Regions from separate parts of the Homo sapiens genome. Here region 2 is linked to region 1. The links come from fine-mapping of genetic effects on gene expression. A gene starts in region 1. The other region holds a variant in brackets. All regions are shown on one strand. Distances are from middle to middle.

Region 1 (16,213 bases):
GATCTGGACCCAGTCTAGATTAGAGAGTCCCATATTTGCACTGCTGTCTCCTCTCTAGAGGGGACCAGATGTTTTCCCCTGGTCTCAGCCCTATTCTCTCAGTGTGGTCACAGTTGTTCTGTATTCTGAGAGCTCCCATGTGCACTGCAGCTGTGGTGGAGTTGTTTATGACAGGAAAGGTTTTGTGATCATCATTTGGCTGGGAACCAAGAGATGGAGGCATCTATGCAATGGTTCCTTCTACCTTGAAAATTTTGTAACTGGTGTTACCTAGTTTGGAGTTAAGGGTAATTATGTTACCCTTAACTCATAGCTTATAGCTCCATAAGAGCAGAGATAGCGTCTGCCCTGTTCATTGTTGTAATCTCAGCATTCATGCAATAAGCATTTATTAGGCACTTACTGTGTACAAAGCAAAATGCCACATTCTTTGACAATATAAAGATGAATAAAAGATTGTCCCTGAACTCAAAAGAAGATTCCAGTTTAACAATTAGTTTTGATACTAAGGGAAATTAAATTCATGCTGTAATAAAGAAGTAAGAATTTTGAGAGAAAGTGGAAGTATTAACTACTTGTAAGGGAAGACTTGATAGAGGGACTGGCCTTTAATGAGCAAGATTTTGATAGCAGAGGCAGTGTTGTGGGAGCATGCTATGCTGAGGACACAGTGCCAGGAAACCTCAAGTCAGTATATTCTACGTCTACACAGCAGATGGCCATAGCCACCATATCTCCCGCTAAGCAAGAGCTTCTTGGACTCATAAGCCCCAATTGTGTGTACTAGCAGATGGGTAAAGTGGATCTTATTAGTTCCCTGGAATTATCCAGGGAAACAGTTTCTCATTTTCTGCTGTTGGGCTTTTCTTAGCTTGTTATGAGAATGTTCTCTTGCTGCAAGTCAATGGTTCACAAACTCATCTGCACATTAGAATCACTGGGGTTCTTTTGGTAGTTCCAAAACCCAGACCACAATCCCACATTAATTGAATAATCTCTGGAGGTGAACATGGGTATGAGTAATTTTTTAAGCTTCCTGGATGATTTCAACTTGCAGATAAATTTGGGAATCGTTTCCTTAAGGCAAACTCAGTCAGTTGGTTTCACCAGTGACTTGATCAATTAGCTATGATGCAAACTTATTGTTGGTTCCTAAGCCGTGTGTGACACATTTTAGATTTAATTTGTGTTTTTGGACAGGCCTTTTGGAAATGGTCCTGTTTTGGATCATAGACGAAACTGTTCTAATTTAAAGCTAATCATCAATCTTTCTGATTTAGGTGCCTCATTTCCATCGTCAGTGGGTCTTAGTCATCAAGACTGATGTACCGCACTAGCGCCAGCATTGAACCTGTCCACATAGGAGTCTGCTTCCAGGAAAAAGGAGCTCATGAAAATGAAAATTGGGCTGTTAAAAACTATTGGAACATAGGAATGGGAACACTCATTTCCTTATGCCCAGTGACCTGGAGTTGACATCAGGATATCTCAGCATAATCAACAAACTTTTATTCATTCATTCATCATGTATTTACTGGGTTTCTACTATGAGTTAGGTTCTGGCGTTAAAGGCTTTTGGAGCTACAAAAATGACTTGGATTCAGTTGCTAGTCATCTAGTAAGAGGGTTTTTCAGGTGCAGTCATGATAATCATATAAGAAGGAACATATTGAGAGACACGAGAGTGGTGAGTTACTGGGGAGTGTCATAGAAAAATGGCGAGTCATTGATCTGACCAGCAAGTGAAGGTGAGGCAAAGCCAGGAAGGATGGTTTTCTGGCAGCACAGAGCCCAAAGTTGACATGGGCATGTCAAGCAAAAAATCATAGGTGAGACAATGAAACAGCGGAACTCACTGCAGGCGGGGCAGGGGATAAGAATGTTCAGAGCTCCCATGTTAGATGGCCAGACCATGGTTAGACCTCCCATGTTAGATGGTTCAGATCTCCCATGTTAGATGGCCCGACTGTGTCAGATGGCTCATGTTAGATGGCCAGACCACCTCACATGGGAGATCTGAACATTCTTACCCCCCAGCTTCTCGGATGCACTGACTTCAGTCCCTCCTCAGGGCTGTTAGACCTATTGTTCTCTCTTTCTGGTCCACCCTCTCCTCATCCTCCTGCTTTCTTCCCCAGATTGGATCCTACTCAGCCTTTAGATCTGAGTGTAACTGCCATTTTCTCAAAGAAGTCTGCTCTGACCTCCCAATTTAAATGAGATTTCCCTGCTATAGTCTTTCATCTCATCCAATTATTTTCCTTCATAGTTCTTATCATGGTTTATGCTGGTATATATTTGTCTACGAATATTTGTTTAATATTCATCTCCTCTATTGGGATGCATAAGGGACTATATCTATCTTTCCCCTTAGTATATTCCTGCTGGTTGTCAGATAATAAGCTCTCAGTAAGTGCTAGCTGAATGATAAGTGAATAAGTGATTAACAGCAACGAGAAAAAAAAAAAAAACTATGTATAGAGAAACCCCATCCGCAGTAACACAAACATAGATAGGAAACATATCACTAATGAGAGAAGGATTGTGATTTCACGAAAGACACATTTACTAGACAGCAGAGTTGGGGACCTGGCTTTTACACCCATTTCTTTCACTACCTAGTTGTGAGACCAGATCCAAAACCCAATTTGTTAGAGTAACTGTCTTTCATTCTCTGATTTCATAGTCTTAATCTCAAATTGCCCATTTGTAAAACTGGGGTAACAAAGCCTGCCCTATTTAAGTCTAGTATTGGGGATAGCACATGGAAACTTAATGTACTATTATGTAGGTAAGGTATTATAAAAATATAAAAATATTAATACATAATATTAGTATGGAGATATTTGCATCTAAATTCTATAGCTAAAGTTTATTGGCCATTGTCAAATGAATGAGTTTGGTTTTTCATTTGTATTTGCTGCAAAATACTATTTTATATCACCACGGGTCAAAAGAGAAAAAAAGAGCAGACGTAAAGCTATATCCTTTGATTACCAGGGTGAATATTAGATATTATTGGCCGAATTTGTGTCAAACAGCCAAACATACTAGTCAAAATCCATGCTCTTTCCACTTATTCAAAGGCACTAATGGCTTTAGTAAAAGTAGAACATATTATTTAAGAGGACTAGTTAACTAGCCTTGACAAGAAGTAGGCCAAGAATTCTTGTGAATGAATTAGCTAATTCCTACTGTAGACTTTGAGCATTTGGTCTTTCACTTGACATCCTAATGAGAATTCAGTAACAGCTGGAGACACAGTTGTGACTGAAGTCAGTGGAGCTGTTTGGGAAGGGCTTATGTTAGAAATACCAGCCACTTAGGATAACGTTGTTATACCAATAATGGTCTTAGGGAAGACACAATGGTGCCAAGAAAAAAAAAAGTGGGTTAAAAAGAAAAAACCACATTCATATTTGTTGATCTTTAGGCAGAGCTTATGGTTTGTTATGGGGTATTAAGCCATATGGAAGGTATCATAAGAAAAGCATACTGGGGTACCGTTTGGTATATTGTTTTTGATGTATTTGACTATGTCAAGCATTTTTGATACAGAAATATTTGTTGAGCACCTACTGTGTGTTTTAGCACTTAGGTGAGAAAACAAAGAGACATAATACATTATCACTATATTTGAAGAGTTAACAATCATGTTATGAAGATAAGACATATTCAAAGGAAAGATAAATAACCATTCCTTGCCATTTCACTGGGGATGCCACAAGGCCATACATACTAAGTGTCACCTGAACACACTGGACAATAAGTTTTATCAGACCTAGGTTAGGGAGACATCTTTTTGGATAAGTGTTTTCATGGTGGGAAATGAGCTGGAACTTGAATGATAGGTAAGAATTTTAGTGATGAGAAAAAGTAAATGGGCATGAACAATGAACTACGTGTTAGTCCTTTTAGTGTTGTTATAAAGAAATACCTGAGGCTGGGTAATTTATAGAGAGAAAAGGTTTAATTGGCTGACAGTTCTGCAAGCTGTTAAAAAAAAGCATGGTGTCAGTGTCTGTTCAGCTCCTGGTGAAGCCCATGAGGCTTTCAATCATGGTGGAAGGCAAAGGGAGAGCTGGTGTGTCACATGGTGAGAGAGGGGTCAAGAGAGTGGAGGGGGAGGTCCCAAACTCTTAAACAACCAGATCCCCTGAGAGCTAACTGAGCAAGAACTCACGCATCACCAAAAGGATGGCACTAAGACATTCATGAGGGATCCACCCCATGATCCAATACCTCCCACTAGGCTCCACCTCCACCATTAGGGATCACATTTCAACATGAGATTTGGAGAGGAAAAACATCCAAACTATATCAAACCGGAAGTTGGAATGAACATACCGTACCCCTACAGTGGGCAAAACAGCCAGATCAGAAGGAACTCTCAGAGAAAGGGAGGAAAGAAAATCAGGAAAATATTAATTCTTTGCATTTGTTTTACAAAGCCATTGTATAGAACTTCGCAGTGTAAAAATGAGCACGTGCCCAACTCTCAACACATCTGATCCACAAAATCAAAACTAAATCCAGAAACCTTAGTGAGGCTGGCAGCATGGATGTTTTTCCCAGAGAGTGTGTATCCCAAGCCTTGTGATTACTGCCCCAAAGCACTTTCCTCTACATAGAGCTCACATGATAGGCCGAGACACCCCACAAATGGTGAGCCTTTTCCATGCCAGGTTAGGATTTGGTTTTTCTTCTGTGAGGAAAAGAAATAGACAATGTACTGAACTTAGAAAAAGGTGAAGAAAGAGTCTATCTGTTGGTGGCTTAACCAACAGATCATCTTGACAATGACCTTGGACAAGTCTGTAGACTGTGATTTTTAAAGAATGGTTTTTGAGTACTTGAGTACTTGGAAAAACCCTTGAAACATGGGTTCACACACACACAAAAAAACAGTTTAAGTAACTCATTTCCTTCTCTGACATGCGTACAATAGAAAACTGTAGATTGTAAGACACTTGCTTCAGATACCACTATGGAGAAAATGGACAATTATGGAATGGGTGATGCATTAGTCTGCGTTCAGTTTTAAAGCTGAAGATGATATTGGAACCCATGTAGCTCTGCTCCATCATTTTACAAATGAGAAAAAGGAGAGGAGCCATAAAGTGACTTGCTTAAGGTTACATCCTCTTCCTCTTTGACCTCCTCCTCCTCCCCATCATTTGCCTCAAATTAGATTACATGTATCGAGCATTTAGTATTTATCTGGCGTATTTCAAGTGCTTAACATGTATTGACTCATTTAATCCTCATGGTAACCCTATAAGGTAACTGAGGCTCAGGGAGATTTACTCATTTGCCAGTATCATGAGGCTGTAAGCAGCGGAACAGGGATTTGTACCCAGCAATGTTGGCTTGTGAGTTGGTGAGTTGGTGCTTTTACTATACATATAGCCTTTCAAGGCCATATAACTAGTGAGTAGCAGAGCAAAGTGTCTAAGGCACTAATGAATGGACTTTTTAGTGATATAAGATGTTGTCTTTGCTATGTCTATGTCAACATTTTTATCAATGAGTCGAATAAGATATGAAAAAGCAGTTCATCAGATTTTCAGAAGTCATGAAATAAGGGTATGAATAAGAAATATTTTGGACAACAGAAGCAGGATCCTAAAAGATTTGGGATGATGAATGAAGCCAAAAAGTTTTAACTTCAGAGGAATATAGGAAGCATTTCATGTAGGTCCCAAAACCAATTGCCCAAGGATGGGATGAAGAATATGCATAAGAGAACACAACTTAGGGGAGGTAGGGGTGGGGAGATTTTTATCGAGTTAGTTCTACATGAATTAACATGCAGAGCTGCCCACCTAATGCAAGTGAGCAAATGGTCCTCCTGTATTCTATATTACTTATGTCCACTGGACTCTCATCCCAGCAACAGTCAAGGCAGCTCTGGGCTCTCCAAAGCTCTTTACAGTGAAGGCCTGGATATTTCTTCCTCCTTTGTGACATGCTTTTGCTTTGATTCCCCATTTTGGCCTCCTCCTTTGTCATCATGACTTTGTTCCTGACTCTGGTCTTTTATTCTACGTTTTTGTTTTGGCTTCTCCTAGCATTTGAATCTTGATTTTTTACTCTGGGACCCTGATTTGACTTACCTCTCTGGCTCTCTATGTCTTATGCTGCATCAGGAGAAAATCTCTTATCTTTTTTCCAGCCCAACAGAGCTCAGCCCATGAAACGGACCTTCAATGGGTATGTTGACAGCACCCCATCACCGTGCCAACACATATACCATGAGGAAAAGGTTTGGACCATATCTGGAGTATTGCATCCAAGTCTGGCCAACCCCCTTCCTCACTGTGAGGGTATCTATGTAAACTGAAGTACATTATTAGAAAAAGGATAGGTTGGGAATAGACATGAACCCTTGGTGATACATAGAATTACTGAAAGAGCCAGAGATGCCTAGGGAAAGGGGGATTATGGGCACAGCAGATCAATCTCAGGATTTGCAGAGGATCCCACTGTGAAAGACTTTTTTGTCTTTCAGGCTTCTCTTGTGTGGCCCCTGGGAGCAGTCTAGCACCTGTGGGCAGAAGCTGTAGGGAAAAGGAGCAGATTTTATCTCTATAAGAAACTTTCTTGTGGTGAAAACTATCTAGAAATGGAATGAGAAAGTGGTGAGCTCCCCATTATTGGAGGTGTTCAAGTATAGGCTGAGCGGTGACTTGTCACGAAAACTGTATGACAGACCCAAACATCAACGGGGTGCTTAGATTCTTTGATCTCGGGTCAGTTCCACACAAGACAGGCTCTGTGTTAGTGAGGACCCAGTGGTGTTTTTGAACAGGCGGCAGGATAACAATGGTATATAAAATAAATGCAGAGAAAGACCTCCACATCAAGCCAACCCCTCCTCCCTACCTGTAAGTTTTCCACCTGAGTGAGCTCTGGCTCCAGCTGCACTTGTCAAACTCCCATTGTTAGAGCACAGATAAATGCTTCCGGCCACCCAAGCAGGAGAGGCCCACCTCAACTTAAGGGCTACTCTATTTTAGTTTTCCGTAGCTGGAGATTGAGTATCACGCTTTTCTAATCTTGTGCTTCTGAAAGGGCCCTGTTCTCTCTTGAACCCCACCCCCTCCTCCTTTCACAGATCAAATACCAAGTACATTGGACAGATAGAAGTTCGAATGAGAAAATGCATTTTAATAAAATCCCATTGATTTTTGTGGATGTAAGTCAAGGAACAGGCACCTAAAGAGTCTTCCATCCCCTGCCGTCTCCCGCCTCTCTCCTGACCTACACCGGGCGGTCATACATCGATTGGCTTCCTAGATAATAGATCGTGCCACCCGGTAGGGACCTCTGGGGACGCGCCGGGAGCTGGAAGAGTCGCACGCAGCAGCCCAACCCTGAGTTAATCAAACTAGCAACAGGATCTCAAGCAGCAGCGACGGCGGTGGCAAGAGTAGCGGTGACGGCGGCGGCGGCGGCGGCGGCAGCATTATGCGTGATTACTGACAGGCACCAGCTGCTGCCGCCACAGCCGTCTCAAACGCACTATGTGGACTCTCCGATCTAGAGGCAGATTCCTGACTAATCCCAGAGGGCTGGCCCAGCCTGTGCTCCCCGGGCTGCTAGGAAGCGATGACCACTCTTGTTAGCCCAAGTTGAAGAAAGCCGGGCTGTGCCTGGGAGCCGAGAGAGGCGGTAATATTTAGAAGCTGCACAGGAGAGGAACATGAACTGACGAGTAAACATGTATGGAAATTATTCTCACTTCATGAAGTTTCCCGCAGGCTATGGAGGTAAGTATCTCCCTTGGGCTTCACTGCGTGGACCTGTATGAGAGACTGAGAAGAAATTGGGAAATACGAATGACTGGATTAGTATTGAATTAAAAGGAGAACATATATGTTTATATGCATATATAGTGTGTATATAGCGTTTCAGCGTGTGTGTGCACGCGTGCATGAGAGAGGAGAGGAGGAAAGAATGGTCTGTAGGTGAGGATACGTTTGCATATCAGAATGAGGATACGGGGATATTCTAAGGAGAGAGTAAACCAACATGCTTGAGAATGTGTCTGAGACAAAGATAGAATAAGAGCATTGTTATAACCCAGTGTGTTTGTGCGGGTGTGAAAAGTGGAAGAGTTAACGGGGAATTACTATGATGTTCCTATTAGCCAACTTGTAATGAGAAAAAATGTGATTAAAAAGGTTTTGCCTATCTTGAGGGTTCCTGGGATACTTTGTAACAAGGGCATGATTGTTTTACTCAAAAGCAGATTTCCCTTTAATTGGATTTTTAAAAAGAAAACATAGTGCTTTAATTTGCTACTGTGTTTTCCTTCCCCTGTTTTCTTTCCTTTGATTTGCTAATAGCCTCTTCTCTCCTCCCCTGCTGCTGCCCCCAATTCTACTGCAAGAGTTGCTGCAATCACTTCCACTCTGGGGGTAGAGATCTGGGGATGGGGGGTTGGGGCTCTTAGAGAATTGGCAAACTGAAGATTCAAGTCACCGTGCCAGGCAGGGCAGCCCAGTCACACTTCACAGAAGCTTCCGGAGACTAGGTCCTCAGGCTGCCTTAACGCCCAAGCACATCCGTCCCAAGGATCCCTTGATTTAGTGACAGAAACAGTACAGCCGCCCAGCTCTGAGTAAATGGAAGCAACAGCTGACCAACTGGCCTGTCGCTTGTCAGTTGGAGGCATGCAGCTTATGTTGCTGGGAGCCAAAGAAAGATTCTGGCAGGCAAGACAGCAGAAATTCTTATAAGGTTTTGAAAATTGAAAAGTCCCTGCTCTCCAGACTTCCTCCGTGGACCAATTCATCTGAAGGCTTGGGACTAAAGCTTGCCTAACTTGGCTGGGCAGAACCCCCTGGGAGGCATGGTGACACACTGCAAGGTAGAAGTGATCTCTGTCACCAGGAGGTGTTAGACCTGGGAGTTTGCACATTCATTCAGGGTAGTTTTTATGAGGCAGGCATGGTGTTGGGCACTGGGAATACAAATATGAATGAGACACAGTCTCTGCCCTTTGGGACTGGGGCAGGCTTGTTACACAGGCACATTATAATACTGCATGATGTGTGTAATAGCAAACGTAGGTTGTACTTGGACTTGGGGTGAGGGCCATGGAAATGTTCCCGAGGTGATGTTCAAGTTCTTTGGGCCAGTCTGATGACAGAGTGAGAGCGGTGGCCAATGCTGTGACCTGGGCATTTGATCTCTAGTCTATGGTTGGGCTCCAGATGTGAAAAGCCTCCTCAATTCCCACCTCAGTCCCATTCAGAGCTGAGAATTGCTTTTTCCTTTACATCTTAGTTCATTTGTAAGAGGTGCATGCTCATTTTCAGCCAGATTCGTGGGCCCCCCAAGGTCTGTGAGACTGTGGCTTCATTAATGCCAAAGAGACCCTTGGAGACAGTTGGGGTGAATAAAAGGGTTGAAGCTAGAAGGATTTAGGGAGAGAACTAAAGTAAGAGCCAGAGAAAGAAGATCTAGTTAAAATTCCATGGGGGCTGGAATCTTGGAATGTTAGCATCCTAAGGACCTGAAACAGCATCTTAGGCTCTCATCTTATAGATGTGTAAACTGAGGCTCAAAAGAAGGCAGGGACTAGTCCAAATTTATATGGGGCTGAGCTGCAGAACACTTCCAGAAAAGCCCTTACTCAAATTTATAATATTGTTGCTTTAATATAGTGAAAAGAGCACCAGGAGGAAGAGGAGGCAGGAAGAGGTAGTGTGCTGAGTTTGGTTCCCAATTTTTCACCTAGTAGCTGTGTGACCTTAGGCAAGCTAGTGAACCTCTCTGAGCCTTAGCACCTTTCTCTCTAAAATGGGATTTATAATCTCATCCTTAGAGTATTGTGAAAATTAAATGAGTTAGCATGTGAAAAACAGCTGCTATAGTGTTGTCCATATATTTGCTACCTAATACAATATTTTCTTCCCCTCTATTTTACTCAGAGACTAACATGCAAAATAGTTAAAAATCAGACATTATTGTAAAATAATAAATAAGGAATCTGGGAAAATAAAATTAAATCCACAAAGACCCTCATATTTTGCTGGCATAGATTTTCATAATTGTGGGGGCTCTGATATTTAGCGTAATTAGATTTCAGATAGAAGTAAACACAATGGTTCAGCTATGGAAGGAAATAGTTCAGTATAGTATAGGGAACTTGAGGGGAAAGGGTCATGTAGGTTGTCTACATGTCTCCTGTAAAGCTACTTTTCTTTGTCATTCTTGAGGGAGGAGAAGAATTATTTTGTTTAGTTCTGTTGAGGTTTTCCATTTTGTTGGCATGTGCCAGTTAAGAGGAGGCCTAAATGCTGAGCCAAAGGACTCTGCCCCCGTCTGCAGGGAGGTCTGTTTGAGAACTTTCTGTGATGAGGGAGAGGGACAGAGGACTCACAAGCAGGCACAGGGGAAAGCAGGATTAGAGTGGACGTCACCTTTGGCCTCTAACCTCCCCTGCCACAGTGCAGCAAGTTGCACGGCACTTATTAAAATACTTGGTGTATAACCCCCTGCCCTGTTACATATTAGCACATGGAATTACAGAGGGCCCCATGATTTGTATAAGAATCTCCAGGGAAGCAAAGTCACCTTTTGGAAATAACACCTGAGATTTGTGTCTGGGACCATGCTTACCAGATGTCAGAGCATCATCTGATCAGTGAGCAACAGATTGCTCAAACTGGCCAAAGTGTGGTGGCTACGTGGTGGCTCCACAAAGGTGCCCAATCTCCCAGCTTTGGGCCCTACCATGTAATGATGAGAGAAACCTTCTCTTCTCCTTCTCTGCCAAGTCCAGGGTTTGCCAGCTGCTCAGTAATAGGTTTGTTTTTCTGGGATGAGACAGTTGCTGCCTCTTAGAAGATGGCAAAACAAAGCCTGTAATCCCCCCCATCCAATTGTGCAGTAATCCTCAGGGTGAGAAGGAGATCAGGGAGAGAGAGGACTTCTCTCATTTCATTTAACAAACACACTGTAACACTAATGCTCGCTACTATTGTAAGCACTTTACCAGCCTCGGCTCATGTAATCCTCATAACAACCCTAGGAGTAGGTACTGTTACCATTGTTCTCGTACTCCTTTTAGAGACAAAGAAACAGAGGAATTGAGAGGTGAAATAACTTGCTTAAGGTCTTATAGCTAGAAAATGGCACAGCCAGGGATTGAACCCAGGCAGACTAGCTCCCAGAGTTCACACTGCTGAGCTGCCTCTCACAGCTTCTGTGAGTGACACAGTTGCTCTGCAAAGCCAGGGGCAGCAGCACACCCCCAGGGAGCTCCCGGTGCTCCAATACAACCTCAGATATGCAGCCTCAGCACTGACTGGTTGTTGCAGACCCAGTGGACTGGCCATTGAGGAATAAGCCATGGGATAGGTTAAGAGCAACGGTGATCTCTGCAGAATTAATTGGTGGCTTCCCTTGGGTACATACTTATTTGCAAGAGTCCTGTCCAACTGACCCTGACCATTCATGTAGAATAGTTGCTTTCACTTGAAAATAGCCATAGAGAAGGGGTTGAGTTGGACCTGCTTGTATGTGTGCGTGTGCACATGTGTGTATATGCTAGAACATATTTTTCCCCTCCACAGATATGTGGGTGGCTAATTGGAACCTATCATGGGCATAAGTGGTTAAGGTTTATGTGGAAAGGAGTAACTGTTTATGAGATTTAGGAAGGAACATATTTCGTATAAACTATTTTCTAAAACATTTACAATCTCACCAAGAGATAGAGAGCTGAATAGCAACTGGGGGAAGAAATTGTGCAAAGAGAATCTAAATGCCCCACCTCTTCCTTCCCCTCATTATGAAGCTTCTAGGTCTGCAGAGAACTTAGCCACCAGCATTGGATCGCGGGTGTGCCAGGGGCTCCCAGAGGAAGCTGGTGTTTTCTCCTCTTTTTAAAAGTAGAAGACACAGAGGCCCAGGGAATGAAGTTAATTTTCTAGAATGCATGGGCTTTGGTGGCTCTCATGAGATTGACTCAGCCCTGGCTCAGTGATCCTCAGAAAAAAGTGAAAATACAGGTTGAGTATCCCTAATCCAAGCATCTAAAATCTGAAATGCTTCAAAATCCAGAACTTTTTGAATGCCAAAATGATGCTCAAAGGAAATGCTCGTTGGAGCATTTTGGATTTCAGATTTCTGGATTATAGATGCTCAATTGGTAAGTATAATGCAAATATTCCAAAATAAAAAAAAATCCTAAATCCAAAACACTTCTGGTGCTAAGCATTTTGGATAAGAGATACTTAACCTGTATCAACTCGTTTCATAACTAAAACACCACTTTAAGGTCGGTAGTTTTATTACCCCCATTATACAGATGTAAAAACTGGGGGACAGAGAAATTAATAATTTGCCAAAGGGAACTTGGCTAATAAATGATAAAAGTGGCATTTGAATATGAGGAAAAGCAGCAGATCTGGATTTTAATCCCAGCTCTACCATGTACTATACTGTACTACTCTGTAAATTCTTACAGCAGTTACCCAGCACAGACCTTCCTGCCCCTTCCCAATTCAATACTTGGCCTCTCCCAGGATTTTGACCCTGGCCTTTCTCACTAGAACACTCCACATCTTGACTCTATCTCTTCACAATTCAACCCCTAGTTTGGGTTCCCTTCCTCAGGGCTCCCAGCCCAGCCTAATCTTCTTCTCCCTCCTCTTTCCACATAACAGCCACTCAGACACCAGGGATTAGCTAATATGCATTTCTTATATTTGAATTATTATCAGCATATTCAAGGGGACTTTCCTATAAACATTTAGGCTGCACAATCACCCTGAGATGGAATGGGAAGGTATTTTATAACTGTTTTACTGGTGCAAAGCTTTACATTTTAACCGATGTAGAAAACAAGATGTTAGACATTAAATTTCCAGTGAATGGGGAGCAGAGAGAAGCTTTCTTCTGATGGGAAGGAAACCTTCTCTGCTATGGAAGCCCTTTCTGGCTTCCTCAGTGGGGAAAAATCAAGGAATGTGTTGGAGAGTGGAGAGCATGTAGAAGAGGCCCTCCTTCTGCCCCCAGAGGCTCAGGCCTCTCAGCCTCTCAGTGGGAATGTGAGAATGAAAGCATGCATTAGCTGATGGGTTGACGCTGCTGCATGCTTCACGCAACCCCAGTTCGGACCAGCTGGCTAGCCTTTCGAAGCCGCACAGGGCAGTTCCACCTGGATTCATGTAGCCCCCAGAGAAGGGCTGATGAGCTGCTCAGGGTGGGAGCTGGGGTTGCTTCCGGTGCTTGAAGGAAGGGGGAGGGAGAGAGTGGCATCCCTGCCTCTCTCCCTCTCCTCCACCCCCCTCCTCCCCTCGCTCCCACTCCTCCCATCTTCCTCCACCCCCGCCCCCCTCCCCTAAAATCTGTAATGATGGAGGTAGTGAAAAGCAGGGAAAGATTGATAATCAGCCTCATTATTACCAGCATTATATATAATTATAGCAAAACCTCACTCATTTGGATCAATTGAGAGAAAAATCAGTCTAAATTCGTGACAAGTTGGCAGATTACTTTTAAATTACAATTTTATTACTTCTAAGTAACACATGTGAACAGTTTGTGTTTCAAGTACCACAAGCTAATGGTTACTCAGTGGGGATTTTAGAAAACCTGCTTTAAAAGATTCTTTTGTAATTAACACCCCGTTAATATGCCAATGTGCTCCTTCTATGCTTTTTAAATTGCTTGAAAACATATGTATCTTAAATAGGCTTAACATTTCTACCATCTTATTTGCTTAACAAACCTTTTTTATTATTATTTTGTGAATGAACAAATACAAACTAGTTTATACCATGACCAGTTTAGTCACCACTCTGAATTAATTATGTTGTAAATTAATAAGACCATGTTGGTTGTTTTTGTTTAGAAATCAGACTTTTAGAACTTGAAGAACCACCTCATTTTATAGAAGAGAGGTTGAGAGACTTGCCCAAGGCCATATAGGCAAAAACAGCAGGTCTTCTGGCCCCTGGGTCCAAGTTTATTCCGTCTGCTAGATAATGCCTTACATTCCTAAAACTCTTTATGAATATGTGCTATTTATTTCCATACCAATCATTGGGTTATCTGTCAAAAAATATTTGGTGAGTGTCTATTCTGTGCCAAGCCGTGTGCTTAATCCCCATATAATGGGGATAATAAAACTACGGACCTTAAAGTGGTGTTGTAGTTATGAAATGAGTTGATGCAAGTTAAGTATCCCTTATCCAAAATGCTTAACACCAGAAGTGTTTTGGATTTGGGATTTTTTTTTTATTTTGGAATATTTGCCTTATACTTACCAATTGAGCATCTATAATCCAAAAATCTGAAATCCAAAATGCTCCAATTAGCATTTCCTTTGAGCATGATATTGGCATTCAAAAAGTTCTGGATTTTGAAGCATTTCAGATTTTAGAGGCTTGGATTAGGGATACTCAACCTGTATTTTCACTTTTTTTCTGAGGATCGCTGAGCCAGGGCTGAGTCAATCTCAGCACAACAGATAGAGGGGCCCCTCCTGGAGGCCACCGTCTATTTCATTCAAACTTCAAACTGACAGTGTAGTCCGTAAGGCGGAAATTATTCCCATTAGACAGATTAGGAAACTGAGGTTTAGAGTGATAAAGTGGCCCTTTTAAGGCCTGCTGCAAATTATTATAGATCTAGAATTTGAGTCTAGTCTAGCAGAATTTCTGTGAACATTTCTGCATATAATGAATGACATTTTGCTTGCACACCACCTTTCCCAGCCAGCACCAAATTATAGACCTTGCTAGTACAGATGGATATTATGCCATCTCTAACAAATGAGAGGCTCCAGGGGATCCTGCTAACGAGGACCGGCTGGCTGTCCCTTTAAGCCAATTCCGTATACTGGTACATCATGTACCAGTTAGTCCATGGAGGCAGATGTCAATGAGTGTTTGAAGCAGATGCCAATGAGGGTGCCCCCAGTTCTCCTCTCGTTCCTAAAGTCCTTGAACATCAATTATGTGCACACCCAGCTCTTGAATCCATGACCTCTGTCCATTACTGTCTCTGGATTTCTTGTTCAGATAGGCTCTCTCTATCTGAACAGGGCAATCTCTATAGATTGTCTTCTAAAGACGGCAGTCTCTTAAAATACAGCGAACTATATTCCTAGTCCCATGTTACCATTGGGTAATATTCAGAACATTATCTGTTCTCAGGTTCTAAATCCCTGAATTCTTTGAATCCATTCACTTAAACTCAGCCCTAAGAAAAATGTGCAGAAATAATTAATCTCCAAATATTTTGAAGACATCAGAGCTTGTAACTAGTTTGTACATTCTGCCAGGGCAGGGAATGGGCTTCATGCTCTTGGTGTCTTACACAGCCCATATACAAGCAGATGCTTAGCCAGGCGTGCTGGCTGACTGACTGACTGGCATTCTTCTTGGTCTAGGGTGTTCTTCCCCTGCTCTCCAACTTCTGCTCTCCACATCGCTAGGGCTGTGAAAACAGATACTGTGAGCCCTGAACCCTCCAGGAGGCTGCTTCCCCATGACACTAGTGACCAGTAAAATGAAAAGGAGGAGCAAAGGAGATTTTGAGTCACAGAAATGAAACCCAGGCAACCAGCCTAGAAGAAACACTCCAAGATATTCATTAAGTGCTTTGTTTCCCGTTCCTCTGACATCTTGTAAATGCTTTTTGAATTAAAGATGATAACAGGCTTTTCCACTTTTCAAGTTTGGTTGTTAATTCTGAAATCCCACCAGGAGTTTGGGATTGATCTTTAACCTTGAAACTCTTGCTGTCCCCCACTTCTGTCCCCATCTGGTTACAGTAGCTGATAAAAGAGGCCAAGGAACTCCAGGTTGTTCCATTTGCATTTGAGGAAATGGAGGGGGTCAGGACTTCTCAAGGTCACTGCCTGGGGTGAGGGTCTCCTGAAAATGATAGGAGTTGGAAGTCCCAGGTCATGGCTCCCTTTCTGTCTGACCTCATGAGTGCCTGCCCTGGGATGATTTGTTAAAACGTAGTTTTCTGAAAATGGTGCTCCCTCCGAGGCAGAATCCATGTCTTATTTACTTTGTCAGCATCTCATAGTGTGCAGTCTGACACTTTAAGAACAGGCGAATCTCCTCTAAGAAAAAGGTACATACCAAATTCTAGCTAAATTTAGTGCCATAGTCTCCAGATTTTCTATAAAGGGAGCTAACTTTTATTATGTGTTTACAATTTTCCAGGCTTGATTTTA
Region 2 (16,213 bases), 21 kb before region 1:
CTCGGCCTCCCAAAATGCTGGGATTATAGGCATGAGCCACCATGCCCGGCCAGCTGGTCCTGCTCTATCAAGAAAGAGTGGAGTGTGATGTGTGGCTTCACAAATCACCCATCTCTCCACAGCTCAGTGTTCTCTCCCACTACTGTGGGGAAGGCCCTTGCCTTCCCAGTACTTAGATGTTCTCAGATGGGGATGTGCTGGGTGGCTGAGTGTCTGGCCATCAGCACAGCCCTTGCATACATGGGATGGGGCCGTGGTTTTGCAAAAGCCAGATCAGTGCTGCTTGGTTGTGAGGGTGAACCACTTGTCCCAGAGCTTCATCGGCACAACTGGGAGGTAGGGGGATGTTGGGCCAATTCCTTAGTTTGTTCAGGACCTGAATGGGGAGCAGTGGAACAAGAGGAGGAAAACGAATATTTGTAGGATTCTTTTCTGTGCCAGGAGCCATCATTCTTTCACCTCACAATAAACCTGCATCTCTCTAAGGTTTATCATCACTGATTTGAAAATTAGAACACTGAGACTCAGAGAGGTTAAATAACCTGTCCCAGGCTTATTAGTCACCAGCAGGAGTGGCACTAAAATGAAGATCTGTCTGGTTTCCAAATCTGTGCCCTTTTCATGGTACTGCATTCCCCTTTGCACAGATTGATGGACTGGGTTCCAGTCTCAGCTCCTTCCCTGACATGCATGACCTTAGGCAAGTCACTTTACTTCTCCCGTCCATTTCCTCAGCTATAAAATGCAATGATAACTTTCTCCCTCAGTGGGTGGTTGTGAGACTCCAGTGAAATAATATATGTGGAATGATCAGAAACATTGAGCTAGATGTTACATGCAAGCAAAGAATTACTATTATAATTTTGAAAGCATTGCTTTCATTCTGTGACTCAGGAACCTTAAGTAAGTCACTTCCTTGCCCAGAATCTGCTGGGTCCTCCCCATCTCTTATGATCTCACTGCCCCTCCTCCAGCTAGCCTTTCTCTGTGCTATTTTTATTTTTTGTTTTTTTTGGGATGGAGTCTCACTCTGTCGCCCAGGCTGGAGTACAATGGCGCGATCTCAGTTCACTGCAACCTCCACCTCCCTGATTCAAGCGATTCTCCCGCCTCAGCCTCCCAAGTAGCTGGGACTAGAGGTGCGTGCCACCACGCCTGGCTAATTTTTGTATTTTTAGTAGAGATGGGGTTTCACCATGTTGGTCAGGCTGGTCTCGAACTCCTGACCTTGTGATCCACCCACCTTGGCCACCCAGAGTGCTGGGATTGCAGGTATGAACGCAGGATTACTGCACCCAGCCTCTCTGTGCTCTTTTAAGTGGCATGTCCTTTACATGACATGTCCACTCTGCCACCTCTCTGCCAATCTGGATCTTTCCCCACCTTTAAAACTTAATGCACACTGGGTCTGCTTCCTTTAGGAAGCCCTATTCTCCAGGCCCACCTGGCTGTGCCACCAGCTGCAAGTCGAAGTGCTGTTCGGTTGTTTCAGAAGCAGGAACATGTCTTTTCAAGGAGGTTTTCAGCTCCTGCAGGGTTGAGATCATGGTTCTGTGCTCTTTGAATTTCTCACCATACTACATGCAGTACTTGAGACCTATGAGCTAAATATTCAGAAAATGTTGATGGATGGACTGATCCAGGGAACTGGATCAATTCCTCTACTTTCTCATGGTTGTACTGGGTCATGGAAAGGTGGGGCAGCTTTTCCAGTCCCTCTCTGTGGTCCTCAGCTGTATTCTGGAAGAGACAGCTTCTTGCCTGAACTCACAGAGTCCCCAGCTTGAGTCTGCACCCCCTCCTCTCTGCCTGGCCTGGCTCTGTCCTTGTGGCGCTGCCCTGCTCAGGGACTCTGACCTTCAGGATCTTCCTTGCCTTGTACCCCTTTCATACTCCATCTCTGAGCTCTTGCTTATGCCCTTGGCTTGTTTTTCAAGAACGCTATTGGTCAGCCATGGGCATGTAGTGGGTGCTCAGTACTTACATTTTACCAAGACTGGATGCTGATCTCAAAGGGTTAGCTGAAGTCTGCACACCCAGATTGCAAAAGCTTCCCAGATGCCTCTTTTTTTTTTTTTTTTTGAGACAGGGTCTCACTCTGACACTCAGGCTGGAGGACAGTGGTGTGATCTCTGCTCACTGCAACCTCTGCCTCCTGGGTTCAAGTGATTCTCCCACCTCAGCCTCCCAAGTGGCTGGGACTACAGGTGCATGCCACTATGTCCAGAAAGTTTTTGTATTTTTTTGGTAGAGACAGGGTGTTGTCTACCAAAACGGTAGAGGCCATGTTGGCCATGCTGGTCTCAAACTTCTGACTTCAAGTGATCCACCTGCCTGAGCCTCCCAAATGCTGGATTACAGGTGTGAGCCACCATGCCCGGCCCCCAGATGCTTTTTAGTATTCAGAATGCAAGCATAGATTCCCCAAGCAAGGGAAGGTAACAAAGAAAGCCTAGCTTTGGTATTGATCACATTGGCTTAAACCATGCCGCCGGGCACATGACCTCATCTCTGAGATCCTTGATTCCTTGACACATAAATTGTGGGTGACGATAACACAGACATTATAGGGCTGTATGAGCATGCCTTTAAATTCCACCCCAAATTGTGTCTTCTCCAGTCCCACTGTTCAGGCCTTAGTTTAAATGCTTTTTACTCAGAAAGCATCTGAGAAATTCCTTCTACCCCCAAGGAAGTCCCTTGTGTTGTCCTGTACCATAATGCCCTGTTATTTTCCTTCTTAGCACTTCTACAATCTATAATTACTATGTATGTCTACCTGTATATTTTGTTTTCCCATTAGAATGTCAGCTCCATGAGAGCAGGGAACACCTCAGTCTTAATCACCACTGTATCCTTACCTTGTAGAATGATGCCTGACACTTAGTCGGTGTTCAATAATTTTTGGTGACATTCCCTTCTCTTTCCTCAGTATATAGCACATTGTCAGCCTGGGTGTCAGGAAGATAAAGGGTCTCCTGTAAACCACTCAGACAGCTCCTGTGAGGACATGAAGGGTGGAGCGTGCACACGTCAAGAAGGAGCTTCTACAACATAAAAACCTTTTCTTCAGAAAGAGGAAGACAGGCAGTGGGGGTGGAGGGTGGAGACAAGTGCTGGTGACCTTTTCATCTGAAGCAGCAGAACAAATGCCGCTCATACCTACTGAGCTGGTTTGGGGGTCTCCTCTGCCTCCGCAGCTGGATGCCTGGAATCCCCAGGCCATGAGGATGAATCTCGGCTGTTTCCACCTGACAGGGAGAGGAGCTGCAGGGGCTGGGGCATTTCTGGAAGACTAGCCTGGTCTCGTCCTCCTTCCTGCCACCCAGCCCTTGCCTTCCCAGTACTTAGGTAGCACCAGGCCTTGCCACTCCTGGAGTCTTTCCAGGTTCAGCACACTGCCACGTGGCCACCAAAGAAGCTACTAGAGCTGCGACCTTTCTCACCCAGTATACTGCACAAGGGAGATGAACATGAGTTTGTGTGTGTGTGTGTGTGTGTGTGTGTGTGTGTGTGTGTACACGGGCGCACATGCAGGACTTTATTTTACACTTGAGAGAGGAAAAATGGGAAAGGACAGAAGAGAAGAGAGACGGGAAAGGCAAAAGCAGAGTGGAGGAGAATGGTGAGGTGACGAGTGTGGAGAGAGAAATGTTAGATGAAGGGACTTTTACAATTTAAATGCGGGAAAGGTTCAAGCTTATAGAGAAGAGCCCGTTGAGAGGGAGAGTTTGAAACTATGGCACAAGAGGAGGCTAATCACTAGAGCAGAGTCTAGGGTAACCAACTGTCCCAGTTTGCCCAGAACTAAGGGTTCTGTGATGTGGGGCATTCGGTGCAGAGGCCGACATGTGGGACTTCTCTGTGGCCAGGCATTTGCACAAGTGTGGCATTGGGGAGAATGGGGTTGGGGTAACTGAAGGGCCACCTTTCCACATATACCTCCTGATGTTTTCCAGGTGTGGAACCAAGAGTTGCTGGCCTCACTGGCACCTCACCCCCACCCCTGGGAAGGTAGCATTCTCCAGGGTCATAGTGTGGCTCTGTATGTGTCACTTGAGTCAGCTGGGCCTCATTTTCCTCATATGTAAAACAAGGACATTGGATTCAATAGGGTCTGAGACATTTTCCAGTCCCTGCTGAGCTTTTGCAAGTCAGTGGCATAAGTTGTGATGATTTTGCTGGCCCTGGCGGAGGTCTGTTAGTAGGAGAATGTCTCAGGAGCCTCCGGTGGAGAAATCTCCAGGGAGGACTGCTTCTGGCTGTCATTGGAGGCCCCCCTATTTTGAGGACCTGGCTTTGGAACAGCCGGACCTTACATGAATGTAAATAGATGAGTGCGTGGGTGAACACTAACGCAGCAGGATCGTCCTCCCTCAAGAAACACTGTTGTCCATGTAGGGGTCTAGGCTAGCCAGGCATGGGCCCAGCAGTGACAAGATATCAATCTGTGTGGGGCTGTGTGGTTTCATCAGCAGCCCCATGTGGCAGGGGCTACAAGAGATGACAGCAGGAAATGGGAGTGTGGGAGGAGGGGGCTGCTGAACTGATCAGATTTCTCAATTATTTCCTTACACTAACCAATTTGGGCTAAGTGAGCACCTGGGGCTCTTCAGTTTTGGGGGAGGAGATCCCAAGAGATGTGAAACTGGCCATCCTTCATTTTGGGCAGGTGGTGACTTGAGTGATTAATGTGCATATGAAAAACAGATATCATTTTATTTATTTTCCAAGCTAATGGAGCAGGTCATGCCAGTCACATTAGTTTTTAAAAAGAAACAAAACAAAAACAAATAATATGTATGGGTCTGTGGTGGTATTCATGTGTGTTGTATGATGGGGGCGGTGGCTGAAATCCCAAATCAATAAGGTAATTGAGTTACTTCCTCCAAGTGTTTAAGGCTATTACTTTAAGTGAACACAGGGCAGTTGACTGTGTTTGCTCGACTGTAATCAGCTTTGGACTCATTGGGCATATTGATCTCTTTCAGTGCTGCTTGGTGTTATTGAAATACCAGCAAAAGTCTTCCCCTCCTCCTCTCCTTTCTCCCCTCCTTCCTTCATTCTCCAGGCTTCCAAAAAGCAAAAATGCACTTCTTTCTATGAGCTAGGCTGTAAGTTTTCTGCTCCACATCATCATCTCTTGTTCTAAAAGCAAAATTCAATTTTCCAAGACTCTTTACGCTTCTACACACACACACACACACACACACGCGCACACATGACCTCTGTGCTCAACAATGTGCTTTTTAATATAGAAAAAAAGCAAAAACAACAGGTCCACTATAGTCCTGCAGTATCCTCCGGCAGGGAAGCCATTCCCAGTCCAGCAAGAGACATTGTCCTCATTGAGGCGGCTATCCAGCTCTGGGCGGCTCACAATCCCAACCTTTGTGGTGACCAAAGAATTGTGGCCTGTCCCCTTCCCTTCAGACTCCACCCTACTGGACCCCAAAGGTCACTGACAGTGATGTCACGGAAAAGCATGTGCTCAGAGAACCTTTCCTCAGAGGAAGCCCTGGAAACTATTGGCGGGTCGCTGAATGCTGGTGGAGTTATCCTCCCTTCCGCCCAACCCCCAGCCCTAAGCCCTGGAGAATGTCTTCAGCTTGGAGAGAGTGCACTGAGGGAAGGAGTCCTTTTGAACTTGAGTGGCCCAACTGGGAGATTCCACTGAGAGGGTGTGGGCAGTCCCCTTCTGCAGTGTCCATGTGTGCCCACCCAGGTGACAATGAGGACTACGCAAGCTGGGCGCTGATCCCCTCTCCAGGCTTTCATCTACTTTAACCCTCTTTTGCACAGCTGGATTTTGCTCCACTTTTTTGCGTTCATTTGCTTTATCCAACCCTCTTTCCCTCCTCCCTTCAGCATGAGCAGTACCTACATATGCACATGTGTGTGTGTGTGCGCACATGAATACACCCCCCAGGGTTCCCCATTAGCCTAGCTCTCTATACGTGTTAGCCCTATCTCAACTCCATGCCAGAAAAATCCAAGCAAAGCCTTGCTGGAGCAGCATCGGCAGTGCAATTAGCTAGAGCCTACATATGTCCCTTGCCTGTCAAAGATAGCTTCTACCTAAAGGCTTAGGGGGCATGGAACTCTTGGGGTATTGTAGAGATGATCTTAAAGAAAACAAAATTTACATTAAAATTGCATTGACTGAAGACTTCCTATGTACCAGGACCTGTCCTAGGTATTTCATATATATTTCCAACAATAGTCTCAACTACTCCAGGAAGGAGGTGTCACTACTGCATTTTAGTGCTAAAGAAGACGAAGCACAGCAGTGAGGCCAAATGCATATGAACAGGTTTGAAACCAGGCCCTTTAACTCCAGATCTAAGACTCTCTATACTACCTTGCAGTTCAGAAACTGCAATAGGTAACTAGGATCATTTACATTTTCTAGAAGGGGAAGTGTGTGCAAATGTGTGTGTATGTATATGGGGGTGGGGTAGACAGTTTAAGGAATTTGGAGCCCAGGTAATGGGTGAAACAGCAATATTGTTATGTTTTCCTTTAGTGCCTTCCTCTCTGATACATGTCTATTCTTCTGGGGATCAGGGTCTTTCAGCTGAACTCTGCCCAAGGCTCCACAGTGGCTCCTACCACCCCACTATTCTACTGCCACCAGAGAAAAGATTTGGCTTCCTCTCTGACCCCTCACTCCTTTCCACCCTCTCTTCTGCTGGCTCCTCTCTGCTTCCCTCCCCACTCCACTGTGCATTACTTACTGTGCCTCAAACATCCATGTTCTTTAAGACTCAATCCTTTGTATTGGCTGTACCCTTTGCCTGCCATATCTCCTCCTTGCCACCCTTTTTGGTGACCTCCTACTATCTTTTGAATCTCAACTTTCGACACTTTCTCTTAAC[C/G]CCCATCCCCCTTGTGTCCCCATGACACTTTGCATATCCATTTATGCATTCCAAGTCTGATGATCAGAGCTGTGTTTGAGAAAGTTCATTGTATTGGTAGGTAGAGGTTGTTAGAGAAGAGGCTAAAGGCTGGGAGAACACTAAGAGTTTGTTGCACTCATTTCAGGGAAAGATGAATTAAAGCAGGGGATGCAAAGAAGGGGCCTGCCTGGGATGGGGAGAGTTCCTGGAGCTTGAGAGTACCAGGCATGGAGCTGATTTTGATTCTAGGGTCAGATTAAGAGAGGCTACCACCTGCCCAAAGTGGGTTTCGGGGAAGTTTTGCCTCACTGCAGGAGACTTTTCTAGAAGACTTTTAGAAGACCCTTTCAACCCTTTAACCGATTTTGTTATAGCTGTGGCATTCTTCGGGTTGCTCAGAAGGCAGAAGCTCTAAAAATAGAAAGCATTATTATTACCGATTAAATTTCTTTCCACCTACGGAATTTTCTGAAAGTAACAAGAAGAGGAAGCCTGAGTCTCTGCTTAAGTGTTCGGGGAGCAGAGATGTATTGAGAGGTGATGAAAGAAGAAGGAGGGTGTGGAGAAAGGGAGGCTAGGCAGGTAAGATGGGGTTAGGGTAAGAAAACACTGATTGAACCCACTGATGAGTAAAGGGACCTTTCAGCAGGCACTGACTTTTCAAGAGAGATGCACTGCATATTAAAACAATAGAGTCCCCCTGAGGCCCACCGTCTCAGCTGTAGCAGGTCCAGGCTGCCAGATGGAATGGGGTTTGTCCCTGTCTCTGCATGGGTGCAATGCGGGAATGCTCTCCCTAACTCTGACAAGTGTGCAGCCTCCAATGCCTTCACTCTCTGCTTCCTGAAGCATTTCATAAAAACCCATCTGCAAGGCTGCCTACAGCCTTGCAGTTTCTGAGGAGAGCACCCATAGTGACTAAGGACGTATAAGATCACATTAAGAGATGATTCAGAAAATATCCAATTTTACATATGTACTTATTAATTTTTTTGAAAAAGAGGAGCCTTCAAATTGATGGCATCAGGTCCTACAAACTTGGATTTAACCTTGTGGCTCTATTAGAATATTTTAGAATGATTTTAATGCCCCTTTCTTTTCTTTTCTTTTTTTAAAGATAGAGTCTCGCTCTGTCGCCCAGGCTGGTGTGGAGTGTGGCGTGATCTTGGCTCACTGCAACTTCCACCCGCTGGGTTCCAGTGATTCTCCTGTCTCAGCCTCCCAAGTAACTGGGATTACAGGCGCCTGCCACCATACCTGGCTAATTTTTGTATTTTTAGTAGAGACAGGGTTTCACCATGTTAGTCAGGTTGGTCTCGACCTCCTGAACTCAGGTGATTCACCCACCTTGGCCTCCCAAAATGCTGGGATTACAGACATGAGCCACCACATCTGGCCTAATGCCTCTTTCACATGACACAAAAAAGTCCAAGTTACTTTCCCTGTGTTTCCTGTATCTTCTCTTCTTCCATACAGCTTAGTTCATTGTCCTGGGTGCCCTCCCCAGTCATCCTTGCAGAAGTGTTTTCAACAGCATGAAATATATCAGGACACAGGCTTGAAACTGGGTTCTGCTAAGAACTGACTTGGGCTACTTGCTTCTAAAATTAAATTATTCCAAATTGCTATTGTTCATAGGTAAAAAAAAAATGGTTGAATAACAGCATTTTCACATGGTTCAACATAATAATTCCTCTGTTTTCTCTTCTACAAAATGGAGATAATAAAGCCTGTCTCACCTGATGGTGGTGAGGATGGAATGAGATAATCTATGTAAAGTGTTTTGCACACTTCCTGGCATTTGGTCAATGCTCAATAAATGTTAGCATTTATTAGTAGTATTAGTATTAATAGTTGTTGTTCCCAAAAGTGGCATTCTCTTTTCCCAAGCTAAAATCAAGTTGTCTCTCTAATAGTTAAGGAGGGGAAAAGCTACGGGGAATCATCACTGAACAGAATTGCCAACACATTCATTGTTGTCCTTAGGCTCCTCCTTAAGCTGCAATTTGTATTCTTTATAATGGTAATAATAGCTAACACTCATCTTATGCTTTGTTCTACATGCTTAACACAAATGAGCTCATTTAAGCCACATCAGACCCCTCAAGGATGGGTATAATTATTTTCCTCACTTGCCTGAGGTCACATAGCTAGTAAGTGACAGTCCAGATAAGGCCGAGTGTTGCAAAGTCTATAATTTTGACCACTAAGTCATATGACCTTCACCCAGCTCTCCTTGCTGCAGAGTCTCTAGTTTAGACCACTTAAAATGATTGGCTCCTCTTGAGCCTGTGGCCAACTACAGCCCTTTAGGCCTATGCTCTGTAACACCTGGAGGGGTGCTCACGGGAGGGAGCTCCTGGAGGTTGCTCCTTACTCTACGGCTTTTCTGTTCAAACAACCTTTCCCTCAGAGAGCTCTGTAGCTGAGTCCCTTGGCCCAGAACTTCTGTTTATTTACATTTGCATATTCTTCACTCACTATTTAGTTAATTAGAGTAATATATGCACAGAGACATAAGTACCTGAGCCATATAGAACAATATAAAACAAGAGTTAAAATGTCGCTTTCCCCCCGTCACCTGTCTCTAGGTTTAACCTTTTCTGTTTCTAGCTCTTCTGGTGGTTATGTCCAAACTTTAATTGCCTAAATGCTTATATTGCTTTTTCTTGGTTTTTCGACTTTAAACAGTGTTTATTGATTTTTTTACTGTAGAGGAGGAAGAATTTATAACTTGTTTATAGTAGCCTCCTAATTTTCCTTTTGCTTTATTTTTGTTGCCTATGTGATTTTAAATAATATATTTAATTTATATTTTGAAAGACTATCTTTCTCGATATCTCAACTTCAGACAGTATTTCCTAATTCTGCACTATGAAATAAGAAATTCACCCTTTCTCCACAACCTGTTAGCTGTTCTGTCACTTTTACATTGTTTAGGTTGAAAATATTTAAATTCTGTTCTGTAATTACCATTAAGTCTTTGTGTTTTGTTTATATGTTGATTTTATAAGTTGGAAATCAATCAGTATTTACATTATGATTATGTAATTAGTATTCTCTTCAGAACCAAGTAGTGCAATTAGACACAGAGAGAGGATGAATTCTATGTTGTTAAATCTCTTTTATTCGAGAGGGGGATGCTCTCAGAATCAATGTCAGATGTGTTCTGTTTTCATACATTCTACTCATGCTCAGAATTCTGTTATATTTCCATTTTTGTATATTTAGACCATGATTCCATGATTTTCTTTTTAGCTCTTTGTTAATTTTCCTGGTATTCTTAACTGTTTTTCTTTCTTCTTGCTTACAAAATAATGTTATTATTTCACCTTATCATTGAGGTCATCTAGCTTCTTATTCCAGTTACTTGCTATAGGAAATTTTCTTGACTCTTGAAGACATTTTTCTCAAACAGCTCTGTTCTCTTTTCTAATTTTCTTGGTTACTTTCTAGGCGGCCCTCCAGAGAATTGCTACTATAGGATATCAATTCATTTCCCTCTGGTTTACTTCCACTTTTTTTGGATCCCAAGTTCTCCTCTTAGATGTCTGTTTCGCTTGGTTAGAGTATGCTTTCAAATGATCTTTACACAAGGGTGCATTAGAGGTTAACTTTCTGGGTCTTTGCATTTCTATAAACTCATCTACTCCCATCTCCTTAATTGGTTTGGCTAGAATTCTAGATTTAAGATGATTTTTTCTTTGATCATTGACTTCTAGCATATAGTTTTAGTAATGATGGTCTGATACTTGTTGCTTTGTAGGTGATGAACTTAATTTTTTCCTCTCTTAGAAACTTTTCGGATATTTTTTATCCTTGGTGTTTCTAAACTTTACCAGGGGATATATTTAAATGTGGACCCAGTTCGTAATTTTTTTTTTGTAAGCTCTAGGCATTTGCTTGTTCTTCTTTCTTTTTTAAATTATTTTCTCCCTTCCATTTACTCTGCACTCATTTTCTGGAACTCTCATTGAATGGATAGTTCATCTACGGCATTGATTCTCTATGTTGCTTAACTTTTCTCTAATATTTTCCGTCCCTATGTCCTTTTAATCTGTGGGTCTGGAGGATTTTCTTGAATTTGTCGTCTAGTTGTTCTATTGATCTTTTTCTTTAGCAACTCCATCTTTAATGTGCAATAACTCTGGTTTGCTCTTTGAATGTTTTATTTTTACAGCACCAATTTTTGTTTTATGGATGTAATATTTCTTTGAATCTCTGAGCACACTAGTTAGAAATATTTTAAAAGTTCACTTCTATTTGGTTTCCCCTGTGGTCAGTGTTTTATTTGTTAATCTACATTTATTTGTGATGGTGATTTTTCTCAAATATCTAGTGATCCTTAGAAGTCTATTTATATTTTTTGAATGAAAGAGTAAGTTGATTAATTTCTGAAGCCAGCACAAATTTCCTTTATGGGTATATAGTCCTGTTTTCTTACGAGACTTCTTTACTAAATAGAAGACAATTAAGGTCACAAAGTTTCTGCCCTAATGCTATTTATAGTATTAGGAGTACACACAACAAGATATGTTATGTTATATATATAACAGAATCAGTAAATATAAAACTCTGATAAAATTACAAAGAGAAATAACAAGGCTTTGTGAGGGAGTATAGCAGACTTGGGATAACTTTTCTGAGGAGGTGACATTTATACTGAGGTTTAAGGTGGCTTGGAGTTGCCCGGAAGAGTGGGTGTAAGAGCCTTCTAATCAGAGAGCATAGCATGTTCAAAGGCTCTAGAATAGGAGAGAGGATGGTGTGTTCTAGGCACTGAAAGGAGGCTTGTGTGGCTATGATGCAGTGATCAGGGCAAGAGTATATGAGGTTAGAGTTGAGAAAAAATAGCCAGGGGCTGGGTCATGGGAACCTCGAAGATTAAGTTACAGGAAGAGAATTTATTTCTCAGTGCAATGATAAATCATTAAAGGACTTTAAGCATGGGAGTAATATGATCAAATTTGTGATTTATAAATACCGTTTTGGTTATTTTGTGGCTAATGGAATGGAGGTCTTAGCAGCAGAAACAGGGAAAGAAGTTAGGAAGTTTTTACAGAAGTCTAGGCAAAAGAAGATGATAGGATAAAGTGAATACATCAGAGATAGAGAAAAGTCACAGCATCAAATGAGAAATAAGGAGTTAGGGGGAAGTGGATTCATGAATGACTCTTAGATTTCCGGCCTGAGTAACCTGGTTGGGTCGAGATACCATCTGGGAATAGCAGACCCTGGAAAAACCAGGTTTGGAGGGAACATCGTGAGTTTAGTTGGGTAAGGTTAGGTGTGAGAAGATTATGAGATATCCAAGTGTGAATGTCTAGTGGGCCCCTTGACACTTGGATCTGAAGAGACTTGTGCCAGGAAGGCCAAGTGAGCCTGCTTCAGGAAAGGAAGGGAATAGTCAGTTGTGTTGAGTGATGTCACGCTTGCAAATAAACATAGATAAGATTTATTCAAGTTTGAAGCAAAGGGATTTTTTTATAACCTTGGAAAGAGTGGTCCTATTAGAGTGAAGGATGTAGAGGCCAGGCTGTGTGGGTTGAGAAGGAAGTAGAAGGTGGGCATGAGGGTTGCTTAAACAACCCCTTCAAGGGTAGCTGGGAAGGGGAAGAGAGGGCAGCTATGAAAGAACAGTGTCACATAACACAGATTTCCATATCAAAATTATTCATTAGGCTGTGCACTCCGGAGAGCAGGAACCATTTCTTCAACTTCTTTCATCCTCTGGACCAGCACAGTACCTGGCAAATGGTAGTTCATTAAACCATATTTATAGAACCTATCGGAAAATACAAATCCTTAACAAAAAGGACCATTCTACTGCTCCACAGCATGTAGAGCTGGCTCAATGCTTACCACCCCCTGCTGTTGTTAAGATTGATGACAGGTCCAGATAACTGCAGACTGTTGACAGCCATGGCTTGTGTAAGTTATCCCTATCAGCCTGACCCCTTGGGGGTTAAGCTGCCGAAGATTCTGCTTGGGAAAAATCAAAAGGATCCAGTGGATGTCTTGGTTAACTCCACGGACTGGTTTTAGGGTTGAACTGTCCTCTCAAAATAAGAATAGCTGTAGACCTTCCTTATATTTATTGAGCACCTACTATGTATTGATCATGGTGTCATGTATTTTTGTACGTTTTTCAATCTGATTTTCATAGCTATCATCCATATTTCATAGATGAGAGCATGAAAGCTCAGAGAGGATAAGTATATTTCTGATATGGTTTGGCTATGTCCCTACCCAGATCTCATCTTGAATTGTAATTCCTGGTGGAAGGTAATTGAACCCTAGGGGTGGGTCTTTCCTGTGCTGTTCTCGTGATAGTGAATAAGTCTTGTGAGATCTGATGGCTTTAAAAATGGGAGTTTCCCTGCACAGGCCCTCTCTTTGCCTGCTGCCATCCATCTAAGATGTGACTTGCTCCTCCTTGCCTTCCACCATGATTGTGAGGCCTTCCTAGCCACTTGGAACTGTAAGTCCATTAAACCTCTTTATTTTGTAAATTGCCCAGTCTCAGGTATGTCTTTATCAGCAGCATGAAAATGGACTAATACAATTTCCTATGTGTTGTAAATAGCTGAGTCAGGATTTGAACCCAGGTCTTCTAATTTCACTGGGCATACACTTTATAAAGGTCAGAAAATTAGCAGGATAGAGGAGGACCAAGACAGGCCGTAATAATCCAAAAATATTGATGGTATGTCTTTTCGGTGACTTCTGAGGGACTTGAAAAGCAGGTAATTAAATGATCAGGGGTGGGAGGGAGTATAGAAGAGAGGAGGAGGAGGAGGGGCAACTGAAGAGTTTGAGTCATTGATGGGATGAGATGTCTCATGTAATTCAGGTGAGTGGGCCTCTGAGGGGCTGTATCCAGGGATGCTCATAAAATGTTGGTTTTCTGGTCCAGGCTTTTTTATTTTTAATGCATTTTGTTGTGTATATTTAAGGCACAGAACACGATGTTATAGGATACATAGAGATAGTAAAATGTTTCTATAGTAAAACAAATTACTATATTCATCATCTCACATAGTAACCCATTTTTTTGTGGCCAGATCAGCTAAAATCTACTTATTTAGCATGAGTCCTATATGCAGTACAATTTTATTACCTACAGTCCTCATGTTGCACACTAGATCTCTAGGTGTGTCATCCTATATATCTGTTGCATCTCCCCCATCTGCCCTACTTGCACCCCACCTCTGGTAACCACTGTTTTGTTATCTCTGTATATGTGAATTTTTTTTTTAGATTCCACATATAAGTGAGGTCATGTAATATTTTTCTTTCTCTGTCTGGCTTATTTCACTTAGCATAATGTCTTCCAGAGGCATTCATGTTGTGGCAAAAGGCAAGAGCTCATTCTTTTTTAGGGATGAATAGTATTCCATTCTATATATGTACTAGAGTTTTTTATCCATTTTTCTATCAAAGGACACTTAAGTTGTTTCCATATCTTGGCTATTGTGAATATGTTATTGTGAATATGGCTTGGCTTCAGTGAACATGAGGGTGCAGACCTCTTTATGAGGCAATGATTTCATTTCCTTTGGGTATATTTCTGGAAGAGGAATTGTTAGGCCACGTGGTAGTTCTATTTTTAATTTCTTTAGAAAGTTCCATAATGTTTTTCATAATGGCTGTACCAATCTACATTCCCACGAGTAGTACACAGAAATTCCCTTTCTCCACACCCTTGCTAACATTTGTTGTCTTTGGACTTTTTGATAATATTTGGCTTCAATCTCATGGCTTTTTCAGGGAGATGAGGATTCCAGGCTATTTTTGTTTGTTTGTTTGATTATTTGTCAGCTGCTCACTATATGAAATAGAATGTATGGAGGAAATGGGCTGTGACTTGTGATATACCAATGGCAAAAATAAACAAGTCAAAAGATTAAAGAACATTTTTGTTTAAGATTTTAAAATATTTTGATTATTTTTCTCATTGTAAATGTAATACATGGTCATAGAGAATTTGTTAAAATATTGAATACTGTAAAATAAAATAAAAATCACTTCAAGATTGTGTGGTCTAAAGTTCAACATTGTTCAAATTCTGTTATATTTCTTTCCAGACTAAAGAATGTTTTTGAAAAATCTAAAGCTACTTGAAACTTAGATAAAATATTGAAAGGAATGATGGGCAGTTCTCTTTTTTATCTGCAGGCACATTTGATCTTACACTAATGAAGGAAAAGAAGAGTCTAGTTTTTCTTTAAAAATTCATAGAAAGAGGATATGTATAGCCACCTAAGGCATTACCTTCCTACGGACCCTACAGCCTGGAAGCCAGGAAACTCTTTCAGTTTCCTAATCTAAATCACTCTTCTTTTTTTATACCCACCTCCTTTAGTCCTGGCAGCAGTAGAAACACCTATGAAATAAACACACAAAATAGTCACACTCAACTTGCCTTTGCGGCAATTAATATTTACCAAAAGAGCTTAAGCCAAAATATAAAACCAAGAAGGAACTAAACTGTCTTCATTACTGTGATTGGCTCAGGACCTCAGTTATAAGTGAGGAAATAGCAGGAGGTAAAAACCAAAGCAAAGGTTAACTAGAAGACAGTTAGTGACCACATGAGGAGGAAGCTCTTTTAATAACAGAATCATAATAAAGTGTCTGTGAACAGATATGCTTCTCTTTAAAAAAAAAACCCAAAGCTCTCATAGCTGGCTGGTGGCAAGCTGGGTCCAGGACCCAAGCTATCAGACTCTGTGGCAGAAACTAATGTGCATAAGTGCCCAGTCCAGTGTCTGAAACATAGAAGGACTCATTAGGCGTGACATTTTTTTCCTTTGCCCCATCTAATGTGCTTTTCATTGCACCAACACCCTTCTAAGCTGTGCAGCATGTCCTCAGATGGACCAGTAGTATTTAATAAGGTTATGAAGTTTCATGGCATGGACATTGGCATTGGCATTGACATCTTCACAGTGCACAAATTTTCTGGTTCTCCACGTTGGTAGGACTTATGGAAAACATCTTGGGTCACAAGCCTGTTTCAAACAGTTATGAGAGAACTTGTTAAAATAATCCATTGGTGAATACAAAAAACTTGGGTTTCTAATTTTTTTTTTTGATCACAACCTGGTTTTATCCAGATTTTACATGTGCTTATGTGTTTAAAAAGCCATGGGGGCTCTCAGTTTAAGTGCATGGGGTTCTAAAATTGCAGTAGCACCCAAAAATCTGGAAATGTTCAAGAAACCCCGCAGATAGCAGGGCCCAGACAGGAGAGGCCACTCTGAGAGACAGGAACCAACAATATTGTTTGTTCATTCCCGCTGGTGCTCACT

Alleles and levels. Alleles are on the strand shown, and positions count from the first base shown. SD is a standard deviation of normalised expression in the study named.
For the expression in tibial nerve of the gene that starts at base 7,491 in region 1, allele G in region 2 goes with a higher level than allele C (small effect, 0.16 SD a copy in GTEx).

What was found. PIP is the estimated chance that this variant, and not a neighbour inherited with it, causes the effect.
Region 2: its variant is fine-mapped to the expression of RXRG in tibial nerve (GTEx, PIP 0.97).

Annotation. Positions count from the first base shown.
Region 1 is chr1:165,436,404-165,452,616 of GRCh38, reverse strand. RXRG (retinoid X receptor gamma) reads left to right here and starts at 7,491. Exons shown (of 10, transcript NM_006917.5): 1 at 7,491-7,772. The coding sequence starts at 7,724.
Region 2 is chr1:165,457,159-165,473,371 of GRCh38, reverse strand. No RefSeq gene overlaps it. Among named protein-coding and RNA genes, the nearest start is that of RXRG, 20 kb to the right of the region's middle. The variant C/G (reference allele first, on the strand shown) is at 6,879.